Homo sapiens: one gene and its partners. The protein of the gene in region 1 purifies or fractionates together with the protein of each later gene. This does not show direct contact. Each region holds a gene or a part of one and is shown on either strand. Other genes may lie near its edges.

Region 1 (2,834 bases):
CAACCTAGGTTTGCAACCCTGATCCCCCCACCTGTGGTGCCAACCAAGTCTGGCTGCCTGCCGAGCACCAGCTGGAGAGATTGATGGAATGGTTCTGGGTGGTTCTAGGCACTTCCTGCAAATAGCCAGGGTGGAGACCCACGCACACTGGTTCCGAAACCAGAGTAGACATGAGACTTCCTGAGGAACTGACTCAGCTGGTCGGGGACCTGCAGCTCCCATCCCGAGGGGACTGGACCTGGGGGTGGCGCTGCTCTCAGGTGCCAGGGCTCCCTGCCCACACTTCAGACCCACTGTGGGGAGGCTGGATGTGCCCCACAGAGATGCCCCCTCGTTGTCCTAACACATCCAAACAGAGAACCCAGAGCAGGCCGGGTGTCTGGCGGGAGCTAGTGGCCCGGGGCTCAGTTACTGTAGGGCTATCCATCTTCCCTAAGACTGACCAGAACCTCGAACCTAGAAAACCTGCCTGTGACTAAACGTTTCAAGAAGAGAAGTAGTTGTATAAATCAGCAAGTATTTATTTTAAATAATAAAACTACAGTTTTATACCATACATATTTACAAAAATGCTTTGCTATAGAAAAATAGAATCAATCACTGAATCCAGACCACCACAGTGGAGAACCTCCTGGTGAAGCTGTGTTTTTTCCCACACTGGAAACACAGAGTAGCCCTGTTTCTGCACACGTTAGTGCACCGCTGCTACGTGTGGCCGCCCAGCTGTCTGCAGGCTGTGCCGACCACTGCCTCTGTCTCCAGGAAGCAGAGGCAGAAGTGATCCTTGCTGAGGAGGGCCATCGAGTCTCCGCTTAAATGCCAGCACAGAGAGAGCACTGCAAAGTCGCCTAGAGAGAGACAGGTGGCCAGAGGATTACAGCAGGGGAGGCCCAGATTCTGGGGGATGGGCACCCCCTTGTCCTGCAGGCCAGCACAGTGCCTGGAGTGACCCACATAGGCAGAGCCAGGGTGGAGCCCCAGAGCTGCCTCAAGTCAGGGAGAGGCTGCTTCTAGCCCATAAAGCTGAGGGCAGCGGGTCCCCTGTGTGTCCGTCTTGAGGTTTACGCAAAGACTCTGAGGGCAGTTTCCCTGGAGTGCTGCCGGAGACAGCAGCTGGGCTTCAACAGTTCAGCCCGTGTGATGCCAGACTGCACACAGCAAGGCTGCCACGTCCGTGGCCTCGGGGATGTGCTTACCTTCCCCAGGCACCTGCACCGACATGCAGCCCGCTGGGGACCACAGGTAGAGCCTGCTGCCTCCCGTGCAGATGGCCAGCCGCGGCTGCTGCGGGTCCCACTGAAATGCGCGCACTGGGGACAGCTGCTCGAGCACCGCGAACAGCCTCAGCTTCTGAATGTCCCAGACCCAGACGGCATTGGGAATGTTGTCTGAGGAAGGAAGGACAGGGCACCGGTGTCATCCCTGCCTGGCTCCTCTGTGTTGGCCCTGCCCCTCTGCTCTGCTGTTGACACCACAGGAGGGGAGGGGAAGAACCGGTGGGGTGGGGCGGCTGCACCCTGCAGTCTGGGTTCAGTTGGGCCCTGTAGGGCTCCTGGCCAGGGCCAGGGTGGCCATCACGGGCTGTAAGGGGCCCAAATGTGTTTCTTTCTTTGGTATTTTTTTTTTTTTTTTAGCCCTTTACAAATGGAGAAACCCTTAACAAAAGGCGGGCTGCAGTGTGCCCAGCCCTGCTTTCTACTCAGCAGAGTGGAGCAAGTGAGCAGGGTGGAGGCCTCCTGACTCATGCGCGGACCTGCGGCTGCTGCAGGACAAAGGCCCAGCGCCTCCAAGGAGCTTCTGTGAGCACCTCGGCTACTGCAGAAACGTGAAAGGAGGTGACGTGTCGGAAACCCCCAACTTCATTTTCTTTTCCAGTCGCTTCTACACCTGGGGCCACAGGACACAGTAAAGGGTGAGACAGCACCTGCGTCAGCACAACTGACCGTTCCTTGTCGCCAGGAAGTAGCTGTCAGGACTAAATGCCAGCATTCCTATGCCGATTTTCGGGTTTGCTCTGTCGGTAACAGGTTTCAGTGTCTGTAAGGAGACTGGGACAGAGGCGATCTCATCTAGAACACCAACAGGAAGAACACGCCATTGTCACCCTTTCGGGAAGTACGCACGCGGCTGAGAGGCTGCTGTGCCTGCATCGGGCATCGCGAACCCAGCTCCTCTGTTCAAAGGGGAGGAAAGTGCGGCCCAAGGGCAGGAAGAGCTAAGCAAAGCCTGGCAGCCGCAGCGAGGGGCCTGCCCGCAAGTGCCCCGGATGAGAGTGGCACCATCACCTGCCAGGCCCGACTAGGTGGGGGGTGGACCCCACGTGCCAGGGGCTGACTGGAGAGGGACATGGACAGGTCCTAGCTGCAATCTCAGCAGCTCCAACTCCTCAGCACTTTTCTGTCGACTACCAGCATCTGAGTTCACAATCCCTTCCACCTCAGCGTCAGTACCCTTAGACTTTCCGGCTGTGGAAGAACCATCATCACAGCAGAAGCAGGGGCTGTGGAACAAGGACGCCCCTGGGCTCCTGGGGAGCGCCTCCTGTGTGCCAGGCTGCACCTGTCCTGACCCCCATCCTGAGCACACACCGAGCCCCGGGGTGGGCCCGTCGGCACTTGGGGCACCGCTTCCTCTACCTGCAACCTTCAGATGCCCTCATGCCCCTGTGGGATGGGTGCTTTTACTATGCCCATTTCAGCGATGAGGAAACAGACACATAGGAAATGCCCAGAGTCAAGAGGCTGCATCAGAACCGGGCCTCAAGCCGGAGACAGCGCTCGGGAGCACCGCCGGGTTCCAGACCCACTCTGAGCGCCACCCACGGAAAAGTGTTT
Region 2 (3,500 bases), on another chromosome or scaffold:
TGGTCTGGAAATCCTTGTTTTCATAAAAATAGTAAGACATTTTTCTTTTATGTTCATATTCCCAGGGGTGTACTGAGGAGTTTTCCAGAGGCCACAGAATGCATGCTATCACAACAGACAGAAAACAGAAGCAAAGAGGAGAATCCAGATGTCTTCTATTAAGCCAGGCATTAAAGAGACTTGCAGAAATGTGCAAGATCAATTTTTTTCTATGTTTTGGAAAACAGAGTTATTGTTCATAGAAAACTATGTTAGTTATGCATATATGCAATGGGTTTATTCAAGAAGTATATATTGAAAGCATTTCTTAGTTTTAATTTCTAATGTCATAAATATCTATAAATATAATCTATCTAAATGAAAGCTCTTTAAGTTCTGTAATACTTTTTAAGCAGATAAACACGTGGGTGCTGAGGCTAAAACTCTGAGAAATGCTAGCTTAGAGGAGCAGCAGGGGCTGGCAAGGCTGGGGTTGGGGCTAGAGTGAGCTTGGGGTTGGGGGAACTTCATCTGAGAGGCCAGTTGGGGCCGGATCTCACAGCCACCACCCAAGATCAGAAGGAGAGATGTGGATTTTGTTCTAAGTGCAACAGGAAACTACCAAAAAGCTGGAGGCAGGGGTATGACGTAATCTGATTTAAGTACTAGAATGATCCCACTGGCTGAATGGAAGCTAGGGATCCTGAGAAGGCTTCTGTTGCAATCTTGGGAGATCTGGGAGAGGAGATCTCGGATCTCAGTATTTTCTGGAGGCCAAGCAGGCTGGTGGGTGTGGAAGCAGGGTGAAAAGTTTTAAGAATGATTCCAAAGTGCTGAGTGGCTGCTGCTGTGGGGGACCCTGACTACTGAGATGGGGGTGGGGGCAGCCTATGCTCCCACCATGCCAAGGCTCAGGGATTTCAACTTGCTCTTCAGGACACAGCTCTGGTGCCAAGCCAAGGTGGGAGGGCAGCGAGGCCTCCCTCTTTGCGGGGGTGGTGTGATAAATAAGAATGTCTCCATCTCACTCCTCATAGCTGAGTGGCACTTCCAGGGGCAGTCAGGGGAGACACAGCCAAGGGGTGGATGCTGCCTTCAGCAGCCACCTCTGACTTGCTGTTGTCCCAGTTGGCACAGCCTCACACTTGCTGACCCTGGGACCAGCAACAGGACATGGGGCATCCCAGCTGTGCCAACCACCCCGGCAGGCAGGCCCAGGTTCTGGAGCCGGGCCACACTCCTGGCATTTGATGTTCTCACCCACCGGTGGAAGGCCAGGCAGGGTAGAAGAGGTAAGCAATAAGTCATCCTAAAGCATTCTGCAAACAGAGAAATGATCATGTAGATGCTGAAGAATGGGCCGCTTGGCTCCATGTATTTATTTACATTCTACCTTGTTCCAAAAGGGCTCAGAACAGAAATAAGGCCTGGGCTTTTCTCTTTAACCAGTAAGTTCCGAAACTGAAAGACGCCTCAATGACCCTAAAGAAGTCATTTCTTACCAGGTCAATTTGTACTTAGTTAACTTAGACTCAGTCACACTTTATATTTACTTAGCAATCATAGCCACAGAACACGAAGCAACCTGCAGAATTTTTTAAGCAAAGAATCCTCCTGACCCTGAAACAGGCAGAATCATCTCACATTTCATCACTGAAAACAGGCGGTGCCACAATCAGTCTCTCAGCCTAAGATTATTTTTTTCTTTTCTTTTTGAGACAGGGTCTCACTCTGTTGCCCAGGCTGGAGGGCAATGGTACAATCATAGCTCACTGCAGCGTCAACCTCCTGGGCTCAAGTGACCCTCCCACCTCAGCCTCCTGAGTGTAGCTGAGACCACAGGTGCCCACCACCATGCCTGGCTAATTTTTTATTTATACTAGACACGATGTCTCACTGTGTTGCCCAGGCTGGTCTCAAACTCCTGGGCTCAAGCAATCCGCCTTGTCTTAGCCTCCCAAAGTGCTAGGATTACTGGCATGAGCCGCCATGCCCAGCCCTGAGACTGGATTTAAGAAAGAAACCAATCACAAGCTGTGGGTGGCAGAGTGAATTGGTGTACTGTTTTCTAGAGTTCACGTTGGGACTACATATATCAAGATTAAAAACCTTCCCCTTTGGCAAATTCACTGCTAGGAATTTATCACACAGACATGAGAAATTTGCACAATTACACAAAGACACCCTAAGGATGCTCACTGTGACACTGTAAGAGCAAAACACTGGAAATGACCCAAATACGAAACAGCAAAAAAGATTTTTTTGCCCATCCATATGACAAAATACCATGTAACAGTTAAGGAGAATTAGGTTGATTTATACGTGTTAATGTGTGACACTTTCTATTAAGGAAGAAGTAGCAAGGTGCAGCATCAGACATACGGTATACCCCATGTGTAAAAAACAAACATATGCATGACATACAAAGAAATATTTCTGGAAAGACAGGCAAGAAACTGTTAACAATAGTTACTTCTGAAGCAAAGTAGACTTATTTTTCATTTGATCATCTCCTGTCTGGATTTTAAAAAATCATATGCCTACGGTATATACATATAAATAATGAATTATCAAACAATGAAACTAAAATAAATCACATGGGGGAACCAGGACTCGGGTTTTGAGCAGGTTCCTATGGCTGCGTTTTGTTCTTAAATCAATAACTGCTTTTGAAAACATTTCACAACACTTGCAACTTAAGTTTGAAGCCCTATATGGGGAGGGGTTAAGTTGTGAGGGAGAGCTTGGCCAGCGCTCTAAACTTTTGCAACCAAAAGAAAGGCTCTCTTTCGAGGGATCGGGGTGCATACGGATTTACTTAAAGCAGACATGTCAGAACAGGAAGGGGAGAACTCGGTCTTCTGGAGAAGTGGTCCTTTCCACTCTGACAAATCAGCAATGGACTTTCCATTCAAGTTTCTGTTTTGGGAGGAGCGGAGGAGCAGGGTTAGAGATGAGCTGTGGCAAAAGTGGGAGGAGACGCCCTCATATGGAAGGAGTGGACAGCTGACCTGTGGGCAGCACGGCCTTCTTTTGAAGTCTCACTTCTTCAGGGGGTTGTAACCGGAACCAAACACACTCTCTCTTTCTAGTCATCTTACATGGAGAAGGAAATTACTCTCCCACAACTTCAGCACTAATCATTTAAATGTTTCCAAGAAATTTCCAAGAAAATTCTTAGTCAATTCTGAGAAGTTCTTCCACATACCCAACAAATCTCTGGAAAACCAAACCAAACACTAAAGGGAAAGCCAAAATTTATTTTGGGGGCTGTGTTTAATCTTGCGCTGTGCTTTGACAAATTCTAAGAAGCTGGTGCTGCCAGCCGACGGGGCTTCTGAGAGAGGAAGGGCAGCTCACACAGGCTCCACAGAGAGAAAGACCTTGAACGCCCACCATGATGAACGAGCTGTGGCGCAGGGCGGGGGGCTGGCTCACCTGGCACCTTGTCCACCGATGCAAACACGGAGCGCTGCACTGTGGGGTCGCTGCTGCCCCGGCGCCCCTGGTCGTAGAAGCGG
Region 3 (3,500 bases), about 150 Mb from region 1:
TTTTTTTTTTAACCCGTAAGGGAAATCCATCTTAGTATCTAAATGTGGGGGATAAAGGAAAAGGGTGGCAAAGGAAAGGACAACCATCCACCAAGTGCTTCCTATGTATCAGGCAATTTACTCATTTTTCATTTAATTCTTATAATAACACTTCAAAGTAGGCATTATTATTATCTCAACTTTATGGTGAAGAAAGTAAGGCTCAGAGAGATAAAATAGGATGGGGCAGAACCAGGATCAGAACCAGTTCCAGTGCCCGTGCTTTTGCGGGAACACCAAACTGAGCTGTCTGCTGTCCAGGTCTGAGATTCACACTCACTAGATCCCACACGACACAGCTGAGAGAGCATGAAGCACAAAATCAGAAGCACTGGTTTGAGTCTCAGCTCTGCCCCTCACTGGCTAAGGGATCCCGCTATTTAACTTCCCCAAGCCTAAGGTGCAAATAGTACTTACCCATGTCACAACCACAGGAGCTACTGCCAGTGAAAATGATACAAACTAAAATTCTAAACAAAGTTCAAAAATTATTATTTTCTCTGGTTTGCCAAGATATCAAACTCACCCAAGAAAAGACTTAAGCACCTGGCACCTAAGCATTTTCTACCTTTTCTTTCTGTTCTAAACTAACTCTCATTGCTCCTTACAGACTCCTCACCATCTCTCGTCTTTTGACCATGAAGACTTATCTCCTTTCTGGCAGACCACACAGAACAACCTCACTATGGGGTATATAAGGTTTTCATGGATTCCCCAAATACGTTTAAACTTTGACATCATAGGCAACAGGTCCAATGGCAATAATCTGAAATAAACAAATTTTACCCAAATTTAAGATGATTACATTTATAAAACTATACAAGCATATTCTTATTTTTCAGATCCTTTGAAAAACAAAAAGTGGCTACTGTAAGACTGTAATAGGCAAACTGCTCCACAGCTAATAGAATTGAAGGCCAGATCCACTGTGGAAAGAAAATTCAATTTCTCTGTAAATGTCACAAATTGTTTCCATTATACTGACAACCTGAGTTTATAGTTTAAAAGCACACACACAAAAAAAAAACCTCTATAAAGACTTCGGAACAGTCTATTATTTCTAGATTTAGAGGATTGCTATGGCTACTCACAATCATTCTTCTCTTTGAACATCTTTTTCCCTTGAGACATGGTCTTGCTCTGTTGTGCCCAGGCTGGAGTAGAGTGGCGCAATTACAGCTCACTGTAACCTCAAACTCCTGGGCTCAAGCAATCTTCCTGCCTCAGCCTCCCAGGTAGCTGGGACTACAGGCACTTGCCCACCATGCTCAGTTATTTTATTTTTAAAATTTTTTTGTAGAGATAAAAGGCAGGGTCTCACTCTGTTGCGCAGGCTGATCTCAAATTCCTGTCCTCAAGCAATCCACCTGCCTTGGCCTCCCAAAGTGTTGGGATTGCAGGCATGAGCCACTGCACACCCAGCCCGAACATCTTATATAAAACTTCTACCGACCCCTATTATGAATCATCTCATGACACACCATAAATGACAGACTCCCTGAAACAGAACACTAAAATGACAACTTCAAAAATGAGGCAAGGCGGGGATGGCCAGGCACAGTGGTTCACCCCTATAATCCCAGCATTTGGGGAGGCCCAGATGGGAGGACTGCTTGAGCCCAGGAGTTTTGAGACAAGTCTGGGCACTGTAGAGAGACCTCATCTCTACCAAAAAATTTTAAAAATTAGCCGGGTGCGGTGGCTCACGCCTGTGATCCCAGCACTTTGGGAGGCCGAGGTGGGCAGATCACAAGATCAGGAGTTCGAGACCAGCCTGGCCAATATGGTGAAACCCCATCTCTACTAAAAATACAAAAATTAGCCGGGGGTGGTGGCGGGTGCCGGTAGTCCCAGCTACTCGGGAGGCTGAGGCAGGAGAATCACTTGAACCCGGGAGGCGGCGGTTGCAGTGAGCTGAGATTGCACCACTGCACTCCAGCCTGGGCGACAGAGCGAGACTCTGTCTCAAAAAAAAAAAAAAAATTTTAAATCGGCCATGTGCCTGTAATCCCAGCTACTCAGAAGGCTGAGGTAGGAGGATTGCTTGAGCCAAGGAGGCCAAGGCTGAAGTAAGCTAAGATTGTGCCACTACACTCCAGGCTGGGCAACAGAGCAGGACCCTGTCTCCAAAAAAAAAAAACAAAAGAAAGAAAAATGAGGCAGGAGGATCACTTGAGCCCAGGGGTCTGAGGCCAGCCCAGATAACATAGTAAGACCCCCATCTCCACACAAAAACAATTTTTTTTTTGAGATGGAGCCTCCCTCTGCAGCCCAGGCTGGAGTGCAGTGGCGCAATCTCGGCTCACTGCAAGCTCCACCTCCCGGGTTCACACCATTCTCCTGCCTCAGCCTCCCGAGTAGCTGGGACTACAGGCACCCGCCACCACGCTTGGCTAATTTTTTGTATTTTTAGTAGAGATGGGGTTTCACCGTGTTAGCCAGGATGCTCTCGATCTCCTGACCTCGTGATCCGCCCACCTCAGCCTCCCAAAGTGCTGGGATTACAGGCATGAGCCACTGCACCCGGCCTTTTTTTTTTTTTTTTGAGACAGAGTCTTGCTCTGTCACCCAGGCTGGAGGGCAGTGGCACGATCTTGGCTCACTGCAACCTCTGCCTTCCGGGTTCAAGCAATTCTCTGCCTCAGCTTCCCAAGTAGCTGGGATTACAGGTATGCGCCACCACGCCCAGCTAATTTTTATATTTTTAGTAGAGATGGGGTTTCACCATCTTGGCCAGGCTGGTCTTGAACTATTGACCTCGTGATCCACCAGCCTCGGCCTCCCAAAGTGCGGGGTTTACAGGCGTGAGCCACCATGCCCAGCAAAAAAATTGTTTAAAAACATAGCCAGGTACAGTGGCACATTACTGTAGTCCCAGCTACTGCGGAGACTGAGGCAGCAGGGTTGCTTGAGCCCAGGAGGTAGAGGCTGCAGTAAGCCATAATCGAGACACAACATTCCAGCCTGGGCAACAGACTGAGACCCTGTTTCATTGAAAAAAAAAGAAAAAAGAAAAGAAAAAGGGCTGGGCACAGTGGCTCATGCCTGTAATCCCAGCACTTTGGGAGCCCGAGACGGGCGGATCACGAGGTCAGGGGTTCGAGACCAGCCTGACCAATATGGTGAAACCCCGTCTCTACTAAAGATACAAAAATTAGCTGGGTGTAGTGGCGGGCGCCTTAATCCCAGCTACTCAGGAGGCTGAGGCAGGAGAATTGCTTGAACCCGGGAGGCGGAGGTTGCAGTGAGCCAAGATTGAGCCACTGCACTCCAGCCTGGGCAACACAGAGAGACTCTGTCTCAAAAAAAAAAAAAAAAAAAAAAAAAAAAAAAAAAAAGGTGACTCAAAAAAAGAAAGAAACTCCGCACCCATTAAACAGTAACTCTTTATCCCCACCTCCCCCCAGCCCCTGGTAACTGCTATTCCACTTTCCATCTCTATGAATTTGACTTTTCTAGAT
Region 4 (3,500 bases), on another chromosome or scaffold:
AAAATATACTAAAAACAGTGGCTACTTTCCTTAAGTGATGAAATAGAAAATATTTTAAATTTCTTCTTCATACTTTTCTGTATTTCCTAAATTTCCTACTTATAAGCATCTTTTGGTAATTGAAACTAAGTATGTGAAATAAGTCTTATCTTAGAGGCTTTATTTAAATCTTTATTACTGAACTAAGAACTTCATTATACCATAATTGTCAATAATATATGTACTTAGACTTGATAAGGTTATTTTATAATTTCATTGTTCAGTATTAATAAAAAATTAAAATCTGTTCATCTGCAAAGTAATTTAGAATGCCCTATGTTATATTTTCTAAAAAGTCTTCATTCAGGTGTTAGAGAAGAAGAATGGAGAATACAGGGCTCTGTACAGGGACGATAAAGATAACATGAGTAGTTAACAGGAACACTATTTTAGTCCTGAACAAACTATGTTTAATATGATATGTATAACCTAAGGTTTAGTGATATGGCAACCACACATTCAGAATTAGAGATGACTGCATTAAACAAAATGAATGTCTGGTTTGAAGGGAAAAACAAAATCTACGCAGGAATAATTTGGAATTTGTTTACAAATAAGGTTTTAAGTCAGGGGTGGTGCCCACACTTGTAGCCCCAGCAGGAGAACTGCTTGACCTCAGGAGTTCGAGGCTGCAGTGCACTATGATTGTGTCTATGAACAGCCACTGCACTTCAGCCTGGGCAACACTGCAAGACCCTATCTATTCAATTAAAAAAAAAAAAGGTTTTAAAAATAAGGGTGATTTAAAATGTAAAGATTTGGGCTGGGCATGGTGGCTCACGCCTGTAATCCCACAGCACTTTGGGAGGCTGAAGCAGGCGGATCACTTGAGGTCAGGGGTTCGAGATCAGACTGGCCAACATGGTGAAACCCCATCTCTACTAAAAATACAAATATTAGCTGGGTGTAGTGGTGGGCACCTGTAATCCCAGCTACTCAGGAGGCTGAGGTTGCAGTAAGCCGAAATCGTGCCACTGCATTCCAGCCTGGGTGACAGTGAGACTCCATCTCAAAAAAAAAAAAAAGAAAGATTTGTAAAAATTTCATTTTATGAGAAACTAAGGATTCCTACAGAAGTACAATTCTTATAAACAATTTAAAACAACAGTTTTATATCTAGAGAAGGCCTTAGAAACCATCGTTTAAAGCTTACATTTTATCTTTCTCTAAGTTTCAAGCTTTTTCATGTGTAAAGTGACAGGTTTAATCAACAGCAGTTAGTGGCAGAGCTAGATCTAGAAGCTGATTTCCTGGGATGCCCTATAAATCAGAAAGGTAATTCTATTATAAATTAATATTACAAGAATAGAGCTCTAAACTGAATGAAAATAGCAATGACTTCATGATCTAAACCATCACACCCACTATAGTTGCCTTTGAAATTTTTCTTACTGGCCAATGGCTATTCCTTTATATAGAATATTTTTAAATAGAGAGAAGTGGTAAAGAATTTTATTAACATCTAGAGTCTGGAGTAATCCAGTATCACTAAGCATCATCTGACATGGTAAAATTTCCAGTAAGATCTATTTAAGGTCCATTACAGAATTACTTAAACCTTGTATTATTTAAAAAATATCTCAAGAGGACAAGTAGTCTACTTCTGCAGGAAAATATTTTTAATACCAACTATAAAATGTTTATAATTTTATATACGTAGAAGACTCAGCAAAATTTTATCAGATCAGGAGATTAGAGTATGAACAGTGGGAATCCGTAACAAATGTGACTGACTAGCTGGCAACCTGATGTAAAAACACAGAAGGCTGCCCTAAAAGCAGGAAAAGAGAGTTTAGAAAGCAGTTTTCCTGGTTGGGTTTTCGTTGTGCACCTCACCTGCTCTGGAAGTAGTTTGCTAGCTCTGATGCTTCATGGTTCAGACTCCTCAGGTGCACGATTAAATTTCCAGAGTTGGTGAACATGGCGCCACATGTTTTGCACTCGTAAATCCGAGGCTTGCGGATAATGTGCCGGGAAACCCTCATGTGGTGTTTATATTCCCCGAAGGAAGTGAAAGTGGCACTACATATCTGGCACCGGAAACAGCGTTTACCTTCATGCTTTAGGCGATGCATCTTTAGCGAGTAAGCCCTGGTGAACTTTTTCCCACAGCGGTCACACTGAAATGGTTTAATTCCTGTAAATAAAGCAAAACAAAATATCTAAAAACAAAAATAAACTGAAAAGTCATAAACCCTACAAATTTCTGAACTATATTTCTGTAGCAACAGATCATCTGAAAAGGCAAGAATTACCAGCAAAAACATATTCTAATTGAGTATCTCAGAAAATGTGCAGAATATGTGAAAAGTCACAAGTGCTTAAAAAGGAAAAGAAAAAAAGGCAGTAGGGGAGGCAAACTAGGTAACGTCTACTGAAGCTGATTTTTGAATGCTTTTCTAGATCATCTATTTTACTAACTTCAAAACACAATTTAACTACAGTATGTAGACAGAACCCAAATCCCCACTAACAGCACATATTATTTCATTTCATTAGAGGTTTACATTGAACGGATATGAAAATCATCAGTACCTACTCTCTGTTCCCTATCTCACAGAGAAACGAGAAGAAAGAACAATTTTAACATCTCTGAATGTAATGAGCATGACAGAACCATCATTTGATATAATGGGTTTTTTTGGGTAATATGATGTAATATTGATAGAAATAAATGAGTTATAAAGTGTATTAATAGTCTCCTCAAATTCATTATCACAGTGTTTTGGGGAAAAAATTTTAAAACCTTTCAAAACACAGTCTACGGATTGAACAAAGTCACAGAGAATTGGTGCTAGGACAGGGACTGTAAGACCTATCTACAGAAGGGGAAAGTGAGATAGTAACTCACGCAGCTGAAAACAGCAGCAAAGATCTCTTACTCGTCAGAGGTCAGTGTTTTACCCACAAGAATCCTGTTGCCTTCATGTGATTACTGAACTAAAATTTCAAATCCCCTCTATACATTTATCCAAAATCTCTGTTATGTTTAAAAAAATACAAACTACAAAGCTGACTCATCAGGGCACACAGAGATTTAGGACTGTAGAATTGAAAGTAAATTAGCAAGAAAATATTACATTTTTAAACACACTTTTATTTGGGAAAAATTTCAAACTTAAAGAGACATTATAAGAAGAACAGCACAAAGAACACCCATACAGACCCTTTTAACCCTATTTGCTTTACCATCTGTGTTTGTGATTCTCTATCTCACCTCTATGTGCACACCTAATATGTCTTTTTATTTACAAAGTACTCACTCCATATCACCTTATGTTCTTTTAATCAGAATACTCAACACCCGTGGCAAGCAGCTTTCTGACACTGCATCATTTCAGCAATAAACCTTAGCTAATCTGTTTTCATTTGACTTCCCAGAGTTTTTTTTAAAACTCAGAAGCCCCTGTTTTCTATTTTAACTGGGACTGCAAAATAAAATGTTTTAGAGCGTTCACTTA
Region 5 (3,500 bases), on another chromosome or scaffold:
CTTTACCTCAAACCTGGTACCAGGACCTAGCATCTTAAGTTGAATCTTACTCTTCTAGTCAGTATTCTCAACTAAAGGCATATAACAGTAATTTATGTATAAAAGCAAAGTTGCCTATTTTAAAATTCCAAACTTAAAAAAACTTATAATCTCAAAATATGCTGTAACATTACACTACAATTATTACTCAAAATGAAGGTGTGAGTTTAACAAAAAGCTTAAAAAGTAAGAAACAGAAAAGTGAGAAACAGAAAACCTTGCCCTCTAAAGGTAACTCATTGTAAAAGGCAATGTAAGAAGCCAACCCAGTTCAAAAAAACATCTGTAACTGGTTTTGGTGGGGGAAAAGGAACTATAAGATACAGAAGCTGGCCAGGTGCAGTGGCTCATACCTATAACCCCAAGACTTCTGAAGGCCAAGGCAGGAGGACTGCTTGAGCCCAGGAGTTCAAGAGCATCCAGGGCAACATACTAAGACCCTGTCTGAACAAAAAATTTAAAAATTAGTCAGGCATGGGAGTTCAGGAAGGAGGGGACTGCAATGGGATGATCACTTGAAACCAGGAGATCGAGGCTGCAGCGAGCCATGATTGTACCACTGTGCTCCAGCCTGGTGACAGAGCAAGACCCTGTCTCAAAAAAAAAGATATAGAAGTTTACAAAAGAAACATATTAAGTATAGCCGACATATACTAAGAATTCCTTAGGAAAATGCTAGGGACACCTATAAGTACTTTACACATATTAGCCCATTTGATCCTCAATAATAATTTTATAAAGCAAGTGGCTGTACTATTTCCATTTTATAGCTAGAGAAACCAAGGCAAGACACAGCCAGGATTCAACTTTGGCTGTCTGGCTTCAGAGGCTGATAAGGTTTGGCTCTGTGTCCCCACCCAAATCTTATATTGAATTGTAATCCCCACCTGTCAAGGGAGGGAGGTGACTGGGTCATGGGGGTGGTTTCCCCCATGATGTTCTCATGATAGTGAGTTCTCAAGAGACAGTGAGTTCCCGAGTTCTCAAGAGACAGTGAGTTCTCACAAGATCTGATGATTTTATATAAGTCTCTGGAAGTTCCTCCTTCACTCTTCTCTTTCCTGTCGACTTGTGAAGAAGGTGCTTGCTTCCCCTTCCTGGGGCCTCCCCAGCCATGTGGAACTCTGAGTCAATTAAACCTCTTTCTTTTAGAAATTACCCAGTCTCGGGTATTTCTTCATAGCACTGTGAAAATGGACTAATACAGAGGCTGTGCTCTCATCACTCACAAACTGCCTCTCCAAAGTAAACCTAACTCAAGTGTCAAGAACCTCTCTTTGGACAGAATATCAACTCAGGCTTGTGCCAAACTTTGGTCTGAGGCACAAAAATTCAGAAACATACCATACGGTGAATCGAATTGTGTTGTTCCCTAGAAACAGGGACAGATCCTCTGTCATTTGGTCCTGACTTTTCTTGTTGGCCACCATCACCATAATGTAATCAGGAAGTTCTTCATCTATTTAAAAGGAAAGGTAGATCAAAACTTTGTTTCCTCAAAACTTTCTTCTTAAAGTTGATGTGCTTGAAAATATAGATGTAGCTCTAAGCTTTAGAGTCGCAGAGCTCTACTGGAATTACATTGGACAAGATGGCTTAGCTTTAATTTTTTTCTCTTCATTCCACAGGTATTTCAAATACTAGAAGAATGGAAATTAAGAATAATTGATACTTACAAAACTAAACATTCTGAATTATAGGGTCAAACTTGAGCATGCATTCACTTCCTTGAATCTTTTTAATAATGCTTATTAATTTCAAAGAAGCTTATGGGAAATATTTGAACATTCCCCAAGAAAAAGAATTGAGTTTTGTTTAGTTTTAATTTGCAAAGTTTCAAAATAACACTCATTTCTCAAGTGAACATCTTTACCCTTGCTAAAGGCAGGTTTCAATTACTCACAGTAACAAACTTGTAGCAACATCGAATAAACAAATAGACCCAAAAGCTCCACATCATTTAAAAAAATCAATTTTAACATTAAATAATGTCAACTCAATGCACGGTTTTACCCTCACAGTGGTAATCCTACAATGATTATAAGGGTGAGGTCTAGGATAAAAAAAAAAAAAAAAGAAAAAAGGCCAGGCGCGGTGGCTCATGCCTGTAATCCCAGCACTTTGGGAGGCCAAGGTGGGCAGATCACAAGGTTAGGAGATTGAGACCATCCTGGCTAACACAGTGAAACCCTGTCTCTACTAAAAATACAAAAAATTAGCCGGGTGTGGTGGTGAGCGCCTATAGTCTCAGCTACTCGGGAGGCCGAGGCAGGAGAATGGTGTGAACCCAGGAGGCGGAGCTTGCAGTGCGCTCAGATCCTGCCACTGCACTCCAGCCTGGGCAACAGAGCAAGACTCTGTCTCAAAAAAAAATAAATAAATAAAATAAATAAAAGAAGCCAAAAAACACCCTCCTAGTGGTAATCCTACAGTGATTATGAGAGTGAGGTCTAGGATTTAAAAGAACAAAAAAACAAAAACCTCACTAAGAAGATAAGGAAGCAAAAGCTGTTATCAGGAACTCTAATCTCTGACCCTCAAAACTCCATTCCAGTTCTCTTTTTTTTTTTTTTCTTTTACGACAGAGTCTTGCTCTGTCTCCCAGGTTGGAGTGTAGTGGCACAATCTCGGCTCACTGCAAGCTCTGCTTCCTGGGTTCAAGCGATTCTCCTGCCTCAGCCTCCCGAGTAGCTGGGATTACAGGCACCTGCCACCACACCCAGCTAATGTTTGTATTTTTAGTAGACACCAGGTTTCAGCATGTTGACTAGGCTGGTCTCGAACTCCTGACCTCAAGTGATCCACCCACCTCGGCCTCCCAAAGTGCTGTGATTACAGGCGTGAACCACCATGCTGTGACAAATTTCTTTAATACCTTAAATACTTGTAATATTTCTATGCAGGCAGAAAGGTTCATTTCAGAAGTACTTTTTTTGTTTCAAAGAAAACTATAAAAAATGCAGTTCAAGTGTTGAAAGAATAAAAGAATAAATAAATCTTGGTTCAGCTTTATTTTCTCTGAGCCTCAATTCTCTCATCTGTTAGTCTTCCAACAATCCTGACAACAAATCGTTTATGAAAGTGCCCAGCAAATGGTGGTAAGTACTCCATAAATTACCAATTCTCAAACTGTTTGGTCTTGGGCCCCTTCTTTGGTTTATGCAGGTTCTATTATTTATGGTGTTCAAAATTAGAACTGATCATTTTTAATTAAAAAGTATTTATTAATTCATTAAAAAATAAATCCATCACATGTTAATCACAAATCCAATTATATTAACACAAGTAACATTATTAAATTTTCCAAAAAAAAATTTAGGCAAGGCACAGTGGCTCACACCTGTAATCCCAGCACTCTGGGAGGCTGAGACAAGTGGATCACCTAAGGTCAGGAGTTCGAGATCAGCCTGGCCAACATGGTGAAACACCGTCTCCACTAAAAACACAAAAATTAGCCGGGG
Region 6 (3,500 bases), on another chromosome or scaffold:
TGGAGTGCAGTGGCGGATCTCAGCTCACTGCAACCTCCGCCTCCCAGGTTCAAGCGATCCTGCCTCAGCCTCCTGAGTAGCTGGGATTATAGGTGTGTGCCACCACGCCCGGCTAGTTTTTTTGTATTTTTAGTAGAGATGGGTGTTTCACCATTTTGTTCAGGCTGGTCTTGAACTCCTGACCTCAGGTGATCCGCCCACCTTGGCCTCCCAAAGTGCTGGGATTACAGGCGTCAGCCACCGCGCCCGGCCTGCAAATGCTATTTCCAAAAGACGTTCTTCATGATGCTGCTGTGTTTCTCAGTGGATGGCAAAGTAGCACTGGTGTTTCTTGATATTACAGTATTTTAAATTAATGTATTATCTATCAGTCTGAATTTAATAAAGCTAATTCTCAAGTGACAAAGCCAAATTTTCTTTTCTTTTTTTTTTTTCCTGAGACAGGTCTTGCCCTGTCATCCAGGCTGGAGTGCAATGGATCTTGGATCACTGCAACCTCCACCTTCCAGGCTCAAGTGATCCTCCTGCCTCAACCTCCCAAGTAGCTGGGACTACAGGTATGTGCCACCACGCTTGGTTAGTTTTTGCATTTTGGGTAGAAACAGAGTTTCAACACATTGCCCAGGCTGGTCTGGAACTCCTGGGCTCAAGCGATCCTCCCACCTTGGCCTCCCAAAGTGCTGGGATTACAGGCATGAGCCACCAAGCCTGGCCCCAAAGCAAAATTTTCTGTCATCTGACAGCATCTGCCTTTTAAGCCTCAGAAGACAAATCATGGCAAATAGGCAGGAGCACAGAGCACTGGGGAAAACACAAACCAGGGGGTCACAGAAAAACTGGAGGATTTGCTCTATCACTGAGGAGCGGCTCAGTGTATGCAAAACAACATGAAGCAACAGGGCCTAACTCACTCCCAGAAACAAGGATCTTACAGCCTCGTAGCTCAGAAATCCCTATAACTTCCCTGAAAAAACTGCAGAGACCTAAGAAAGATACTGTGGAGCCAGATACCATCATGATCTCTGACCATCCCTGCACACGTCCCAACACAGGAATACACCCACACAGGCTGTCAGGCCTGTGGCATCACCCTGGGCTCACCGGCTCAGGGGGGGATCATCAGGGCTGGTGCCTGGGGCTGGGTATGGTGCACAGCTGTCGTCCACAGGGGTGGTTGGGGATGGGCAGGGCAGGTACACTGCACTCCACAGCATCAGGTTACGCACATGGCACACAGGGTACAGCACCTGAGGAGGGGGGAGGACACAGGTTTAAATATGCCCCAATAAGTCTTCTAGGATGTCTGGAAATGAGGATCAAGAGCAAGCACCCAGCTGGAATACCCAACAGGGCTGACAGGATCTCCACAAAGAAGCAGCACCAATGGATACAGGTCTATCCCAAGAGGACCAATACAGGACTAGACATTTTATATAGCCAACATTTTTCACCTAAGAGCCACTTGAGAGCATGAAAATATAAAATATTTTTTAGATCCCTTTCTCATTATAGTTATTTCTTAGGTCACCTTCAATGTCTGACTTTCATCAGCTTGATTTGTTGCTTTTACTGCCTAAGAAAGTGAGTCATTCTGTTAGATGGTGATTGTCCATCCTGCTGGCACAAAAGCTTGGCTTCAAGAAACACTGTCAAACCCATTTTATGGGATCATTTAAATTAATCATGTGAAAAGAAGGAAATTTTCCTGCTGTATTGTTACTTCCCCAGAAGGCACACTGAAGGGGAGAGACAAGCAGTCAGCTTAAATCTTTTCTGTGATTACTTAAATGTAATGAGAACCATATTAATAGTCCAGGAAATCAGTATGAACTCTGATTAGCCTCCTTTTGACTTCTTTAGGGTCTAAGATGCATTCTGACAAAGCTAGTATTACTATGAAACTGACACATAGGTCTATGTGCCTCCTTTTCTCTGCTTAACAGAAGGTATTCATTCCTTCGGGGAACAAAGTCTTAAAGGGCCTGCCAGCTCTTCATGTGAGCAGAGAATCAGACAGACACACATACCAATGTCAAACACAGTTTACTGTTCTGAGACAGAAGCTTTGGTGGGTATCATTGCTTATTGACACTGGGAGGGTGCTGGGGGCCTGGTGGCAGCTCATTCTGAGCTATCAGTGCATCAGGAAGCAACTTAAGTGCCTCTCCCGTAAGACAGAATATGCTAGAAATAAGCTCTGGAGGCAGTGCCAAAAAAGATTCATGTCTAGGGTGGCAAAGTAGAGATCTGTGTTAAACCAAACCACCCTCAGCAAGTAGTCATCAGAAACAGATCAGAGCACCATCAGAAGCAGGCCTTCCTCAGGACAGAATCATGGGGGAAAAATGGAACCAGTCCATCCAGAGACAGTAGAGATGTCTTCACAAAAACAGTCACTACTCAAAAAGGCTCTCATATGTAACCAACCCCAAATTCCTTCTGCTGACCACAGTGGAAAGGCTGAAGGATACATACGGCTTCTGACTGAGAGGAATACAGTAGGTTTTTGAAAGCCTTGTTGCCTGCCCGAAGAAGTGACCACACGGAACATGTCCGTTCCTGAGTATGCTTTTCCCCTCTCTCCTTGGCGTTGTTGCACAGGAATGTTCCAAACAGGCAGGAATAGGTATGCTGCACCAGTTTCACCTATGGAAGTCCAATGAAGCACAAATTAAGCAATCAGGCATGCACACTCTGATAAGTCAGCTCAGCTGAGCCACCTTATCCTAACATCCCTGAGAACACTTCAATTTACTCTGTCAGGACGGGGAACCCAGTAAGCCATGCAGTAGCCTCCTCCTCCTCACACCACCAATTCCAGGACCCAACAACCTGAGTCAGACAGGTTGTTGGTGCCCCTATTCCTCTTAGCTTCCGTGATAAATAGTCTGAGATTGTGAATTAACAGCCACTCTCACAAGCGCCACAGCATATGAACTGGGTGCAGGAGCACGTCAGTGTACAACTCAAGTCTGAGCTGACAGTATGTTTGTAAAACTACTTGTTCATTCTACAAATTATTGAGCATTTCACATGGCCCAAACATGACTAAGGTGCTGGGCATGTAGCAATGACCAGCAAATTCTTCTGCCCTGATGGAGCTTGCTCTAGTCATAGCTGAAGAGTGACCAGTGCTATGGAGAACAAGGCAGACTGAGATGGACAGGACACATATGAGGCAGTGCAGGATGGCCTCACTGGCTGGGACCCAGTGGACTTGAAAGAGCAGGCATGTGGGTATCTGAGGGGAAGCACTCCAGGCAGAGGCAACCACAGGTGCAATGGCTTTGAGGTAAAGCACATGCTTGCAATTTCTGAGCTACAGCAAGGAGGCCAGTGTGACTAAAGGAGATTGCAGAAGAGGGAGAATGGTAGGAAATGAACCTAGAGAGGTAACCTCTAGGAAGGCCCTGGAGACCATTTTAAGAACTTTGGCTTTTGTGTAAAATGTAACTAGAGGTTTTTAAGCCAAGGAATGACACAGCCTGCCTTGTGTTTTA
Region 7 (3,500 bases), about 12 Mb from region 1:
TATTCATTAAATTGGGCTCCTGAATTGTGTTATTAGATGATTTGAAATAAGTGCTGTTCAGCCCCTTGAAACACATATATTAGCCTGCTGAACAAGGAGACTAAATAAAGTACATTTATCTGTAGTTAAATTAACAATCTTCTTTACTATTTGGTTTAAATTTTTCTTTAAACTTATTATTTTTACTTGCCTTACAGCTACACATATTTTGAATGAAAATAGTGTACTCCTCTGTGGAAACCAATTAGAATGTTAATCATTTTATTAGAAAGCATGTAGTTTTTTTTTGTTTGTTTTTGAGACGGAGTTTCGCTCCTGTTGCCCAGGCTGGAGTGCAATGGTGCTATCTCGGCTCACCGCGACCTCTGCCTCCCAGGTTCAAGCAATTCTGCCTCAGCCTCCCAAGTAGCTGGGATTACAGGCATGCACCACCACACCCAGCTAATTTTGTGTTTTTAGTAGAGACGGGGTTTCTCTGTGTTGAGGCTGGTCTCGAACTCTTAACCTCAGGTGATCTGCCCACCTCGGCCTCCCAAAGTGCTGGGATTATAGGTGTGAGCCACCGCGACCGGCCAAAACCATGTAATTTTTATGTGATATCTAGCTGGTTTTTAGTGTGTGGAAATATGCTTTGCAGTGAGTGAAAAGATTTTTTGGATATAATTTTAAAGTATCTCAATATTCAGATTGTTCTCCCTACATGTATTCCTGTCTGCCAAGTTGAAGATTACAAGCATCTAAAAAAACCATAGTGGAATGGCTCTATAAAATCCTAACTTAAATTTAGTGAATTCTTGGATTTAATTACTTATGATTTCATTTTGAGTATAGAAATGAAATGAACTCTAGCATATTTAAAGATTTGTATTATATAGTTTAAGGAACTGCTCCAATCCTTAGAATTAAGGAAGATTTGTGGGAAAATTCAAATGAGAAACACTATTTCTTATCCTGTGTACCTGGTGCTAGATTTTTAGTCCAGCCTTAAATGCAAGGGTTGCATGTGCCTGTCTTTGTATTAGATGCTGTTTGGGTCACTAGGGAACATTGCCAAATGATATGAAGATTCTTTTAATTATACATTGTATTGACTTTGATTGTTATATTCCCATTATGTTACACATAACGTATGTACTTTTACATATAATACATTTATAGTTTCTTTGATTCTTAAAATTGACTAAAAGTGATTTTTTTTTTACACATCATTTATTTTTCCTTTGATTTAAAAACTGGGGCTTATGTACTCAAAAAACATTTTGCAGTTTACAAAACTATATTTAACATATAGCGATTTGTCTTTTACCAATCAAATTGGTAGGTAGAAGTATTTTGTCTGAACCAGTAATTTTTTTAAATTACACTGTTTGCAGCTGGGTGCGGTGGCTCATGCCTGTAATCCCAGCACTTTGGGAGGCTGAGGCGGGCGGGCGGATCATGAGGTCAGGAGTTTGAGACGAGCCTGGCCAACATGGTGAAACCCTATCTCTACTAAAAATACAAAAAATTAGCCTGGCATGGTGGCAAGCACCTATAATCCCAGCTACTCGGGAGGCTGAGGCAGGAGAATCGCTTGAACCCAGGAGGTGGAGGGTGCAGTGAGCCAAGATCATGCCATTGCACTCCAGCCTGGGTGACAGAGCAAGACTCTGTCTCGAGAAAAAAAAAAAATTATGCTGTTTGCAGTGAAGGCTCATTTGCATTCAAGATTATTTAAAAGTGTCCTTGGATTAAAAGATAAAAGAGTAATTTATTACTTTATTGTGTGAAAAGGATGCTAGAACTTTTTTTTTTTTTTTTTTTTGAGACGGAGTTTCTCTCTCTTGCCCAGGCTGGAGTGCAGTGGTGTGATCTCGGCTCACTGCAAGCTCCACCTCCTGGGTTCACACCATTCTGCGTCAGCCTCCCAAATAGCTGGGATTACAGGCACCTGCCACCACACCCGGCTAATTTTTTTGTATTTTTAGTAGAGACGGGGTTTCACCATGTTAGCCAGCATGGTCTCGATCTCCTGACCTCAGGATCCGCCCGCCTCGGCCTCCCAAAGTGCTGGGATTACAGGTGTGAGCCACCGTGCCCGGCCAGATGTTAGAATCTTTAATGAAGACCTCATCGATCAGAATTCAGGAGGAAGTACTAAACTTGGGTGGGAAAATACCTCTTTATTTTTAGTAACTTCTTACTGGGATCTAATATTTCCTTCAACTATAATATAGAGAAAACTAATAGTAGTTGTGATTTTCGTCACCAATACAAATCATATATATTTTCATATTTTATATTACAGTTTTTGCAAATACTTCATTATTGTCATCACAACTTGGAAATTACAGTGGCTGTTAGATCTGCTGCCAGATACTTTTTTTTTTTTTTTTTTTTGAGACAGAGTCTTGCTGTGTCACCCAGGCTGGAGTGCAATGGCATGATCTCGGCTCACTGCAACCTCTGCCTCCCAGGTTCCAGCAATTCTCCTGCCTCAGTTTCTCGAGTAACTGGAATTACAGGCGCCCACCACCATGCCCAGCTAATTTTTGTGTTTTTAATAGAGACGGGGTTTCACCATGTTGGCTAGGCTGGTCTTGAACTCCTGATCTTAGGTGATCCGCCCACCTCGACTTTACAATGTGCTGGGATTACAGTCATAAGCCACTGCGCCTGGCCTAGATACTTTTATTTGGTGTGTTAGTAAAGAAGCATATATATTACTATATGATCAATTTGTGTTATATATCTTAAAAATTCTATCTCAGGAATTTTGAACATACACAAAAGTGGACACAATAGTCAGTGAATCCCAAGTTCCTCTCGTTCATCTCCAACAACCATCAGTTATGGCCTATCTGCTTTTCTCCTTCCTGTATTTTTTTTTTTCTTGAGACAGGATCTCACTTTGTCACCCATGCTGGAGTGCAGTGGTGTGATCACTGCTTACTGTGTCCCTTCAACCTCCCGGGCTCAAGAGATCCTCCCATCTTAGCTTTCCAAGTAGCTAGGACTACAGGCGCACACCACCATACTCGGCTAATTTTTGTATTTTCTGTAGAGACAAGGTCTCACTCTGTTGCCCAGGCTGGTCTCGAACTCCTGGGCTCAAGTGATCTGTCTGCCTCGGCCTCTCAAAGTGCTGGGATTACAGGTGTGAGCCACTGCACCCAGCCTTTTTTTTTTGAGACGGAGTCTCGTTCTGTTGCCCAGGCTGGAGTGCAGTGGCGTGATCTCAGCTCACTGCAACCTCTGCCTCCCGGGTTCAAGCTATTCTTGTGCTTCAGCCTCCTGAGTAGCTGGGATTACAGGCGTGTGCTACCACGCCCAGCTAGTTTTTGTATTTTTAGTAGAGACAAGGTTTCACCATGTTGGCCAGGCTGGTCTTGAACTCCTGACCTCAAGTGATCTGCCTGCCTCAGCCTCCCAAAGTGCTGGTATTACAGGCGTGAGCCACCGTGCCCGGCCCCTATTTATTTATTTATTTTCATAAAAAAATTGTTTTTTTTCTACCCAGG

What was found.
Region 2: the proteins of WRAP73 (region 1) and CLEC16A purify together in Homo sapiens (affinity purification with mass spectrometry; 3 studies listed by BioGRID and IntAct, with this or other methods). This does not show direct contact.
Region 3: the proteins of WRAP73 (region 1) and PRCC purify together in Homo sapiens (affinity purification with mass spectrometry; 3 studies listed by BioGRID and IntAct, with this or other methods). This does not show direct contact.
Region 4: the proteins of WRAP73 (region 1) and ZBTB44 purify together in Homo sapiens (affinity purification with mass spectrometry; 3 studies listed by BioGRID and IntAct, with this or other methods). This does not show direct contact.
Region 5: the proteins of WRAP73 (region 1) and ZC3H14 purify together in Homo sapiens (co-immunoprecipitation; 3 studies listed by BioGRID and IntAct, with this or other methods). This does not show direct contact.
Region 6: the proteins of WRAP73 (region 1) and MTMR3 purify together in Homo sapiens (affinity purification with mass spectrometry; 2 studies listed by BioGRID and IntAct, with this or other methods). This does not show direct contact.
Region 7: the proteins of WRAP73 (region 1) and SPEN purify together in Homo sapiens (affinity purification with mass spectrometry; 3 studies listed by BioGRID and IntAct, with this or other methods). This does not show direct contact.

Annotation. Positions count from the first base shown.
Region 1 is NC_000001.11:3,630,270-3,633,103, forward strand, and holds the end of WRAP73 (WD repeat-containing protein WRAP73), read right to left. Parts: intron 2,070-2,834; coding exon 1,944-2,069; intron 1,888-1,943; coding exon of another isoform or gene 1,754-1,887; intron 1,389-1,753; coding exon 1,197-1,388; exon of another isoform or gene 849-1,196; coding exon 706-848; 3' UTR 501-705; downstream 1-500.
Region 2 is NC_000016.10:11,126,064-11,129,563, reverse strand, and holds part of CLEC16A (protein CLEC16A), read right to left. Parts: coding exon 3,418-3,500; coding exon of another isoform or gene 3,284-3,417; exon of another isoform or gene 3,220-3,283; intron 194-3,219; exon of another isoform or gene 66-193; intron 1-65. UniProt on the Homo sapiens protein: Regulator of mitophagy through the upstream regulation of the RNF41/NRDP1-PRKN pathway. Mitophagy is a selective form of autophagy necessary for mitochondrial quality control.
Region 3 is NC_000001.11:156,774,035-156,777,534, reverse strand, and holds part of PRCC (proline-rich protein PRCC), read right to left. Parts: intron 1-3,500. UniProt on the Homo sapiens protein: May regulate cell cycle progression through interaction with MAD2L2.
Region 4 is NC_000011.10:130,234,918-130,238,417, forward strand, and holds part of ZBTB44 (zinc finger and BTB domain-containing protein 44), read right to left. Parts: intron 2,177-3,500; coding exon 1,876-2,176; intron 1,300-1,875; exon of another isoform or gene 1,193-1,299; intron 1-1,192. UniProt on the Homo sapiens protein: May be involved in transcriptional regulation.
Region 5 is NC_000014.9:88,566,037-88,569,536, reverse strand, and holds part of ZC3H14 (zinc finger CCCH domain-containing protein 14), read right to left. Parts: intron 1,680-3,500; exon of another isoform or gene 1,499-1,679; coding exon 1,384-1,498; intron 1-1,383. UniProt on the Homo sapiens protein: RNA-binding protein involved in the biogenesis of circular RNAs (circRNAs), which are produced by back-splicing circularization of pre-mRNAs.
Region 6 is NC_000022.11:30,015,674-30,019,173, reverse strand, and holds part of MTMR3 (phosphatidylinositol-3,5-bisphosphate 3-phosphatase MTMR3), read right to left. Parts: intron 2,647-3,500; coding exon 2,476-2,646; intron 1,248-2,475; coding exon 1,102-1,247; intron 558-1,101; exon of another isoform or gene 445-557; intron 1-444. UniProt on the Homo sapiens protein: Lipid phosphatase that specifically dephosphorylates the D-3 position of phosphatidylinositol 3-phosphate and phosphatidylinositol 3,5-bisphosphate, generating phosphatidylinositol and phosphatidylinositol 5-phosphate.
Region 7 is NC_000001.11:15,854,207-15,857,706, forward strand, and holds part of SPEN (msx2-interacting protein), read left to right. Parts: intron 1-3,500. UniProt on the Homo sapiens protein: May serve as a nuclear matrix platform that organizes and integrates transcriptional responses. In osteoblasts, supports transcription activation: synergizes with RUNX2 to enhance FGFR2-mediated activation of the osteocalcin FGF-responsive element (OCFRE).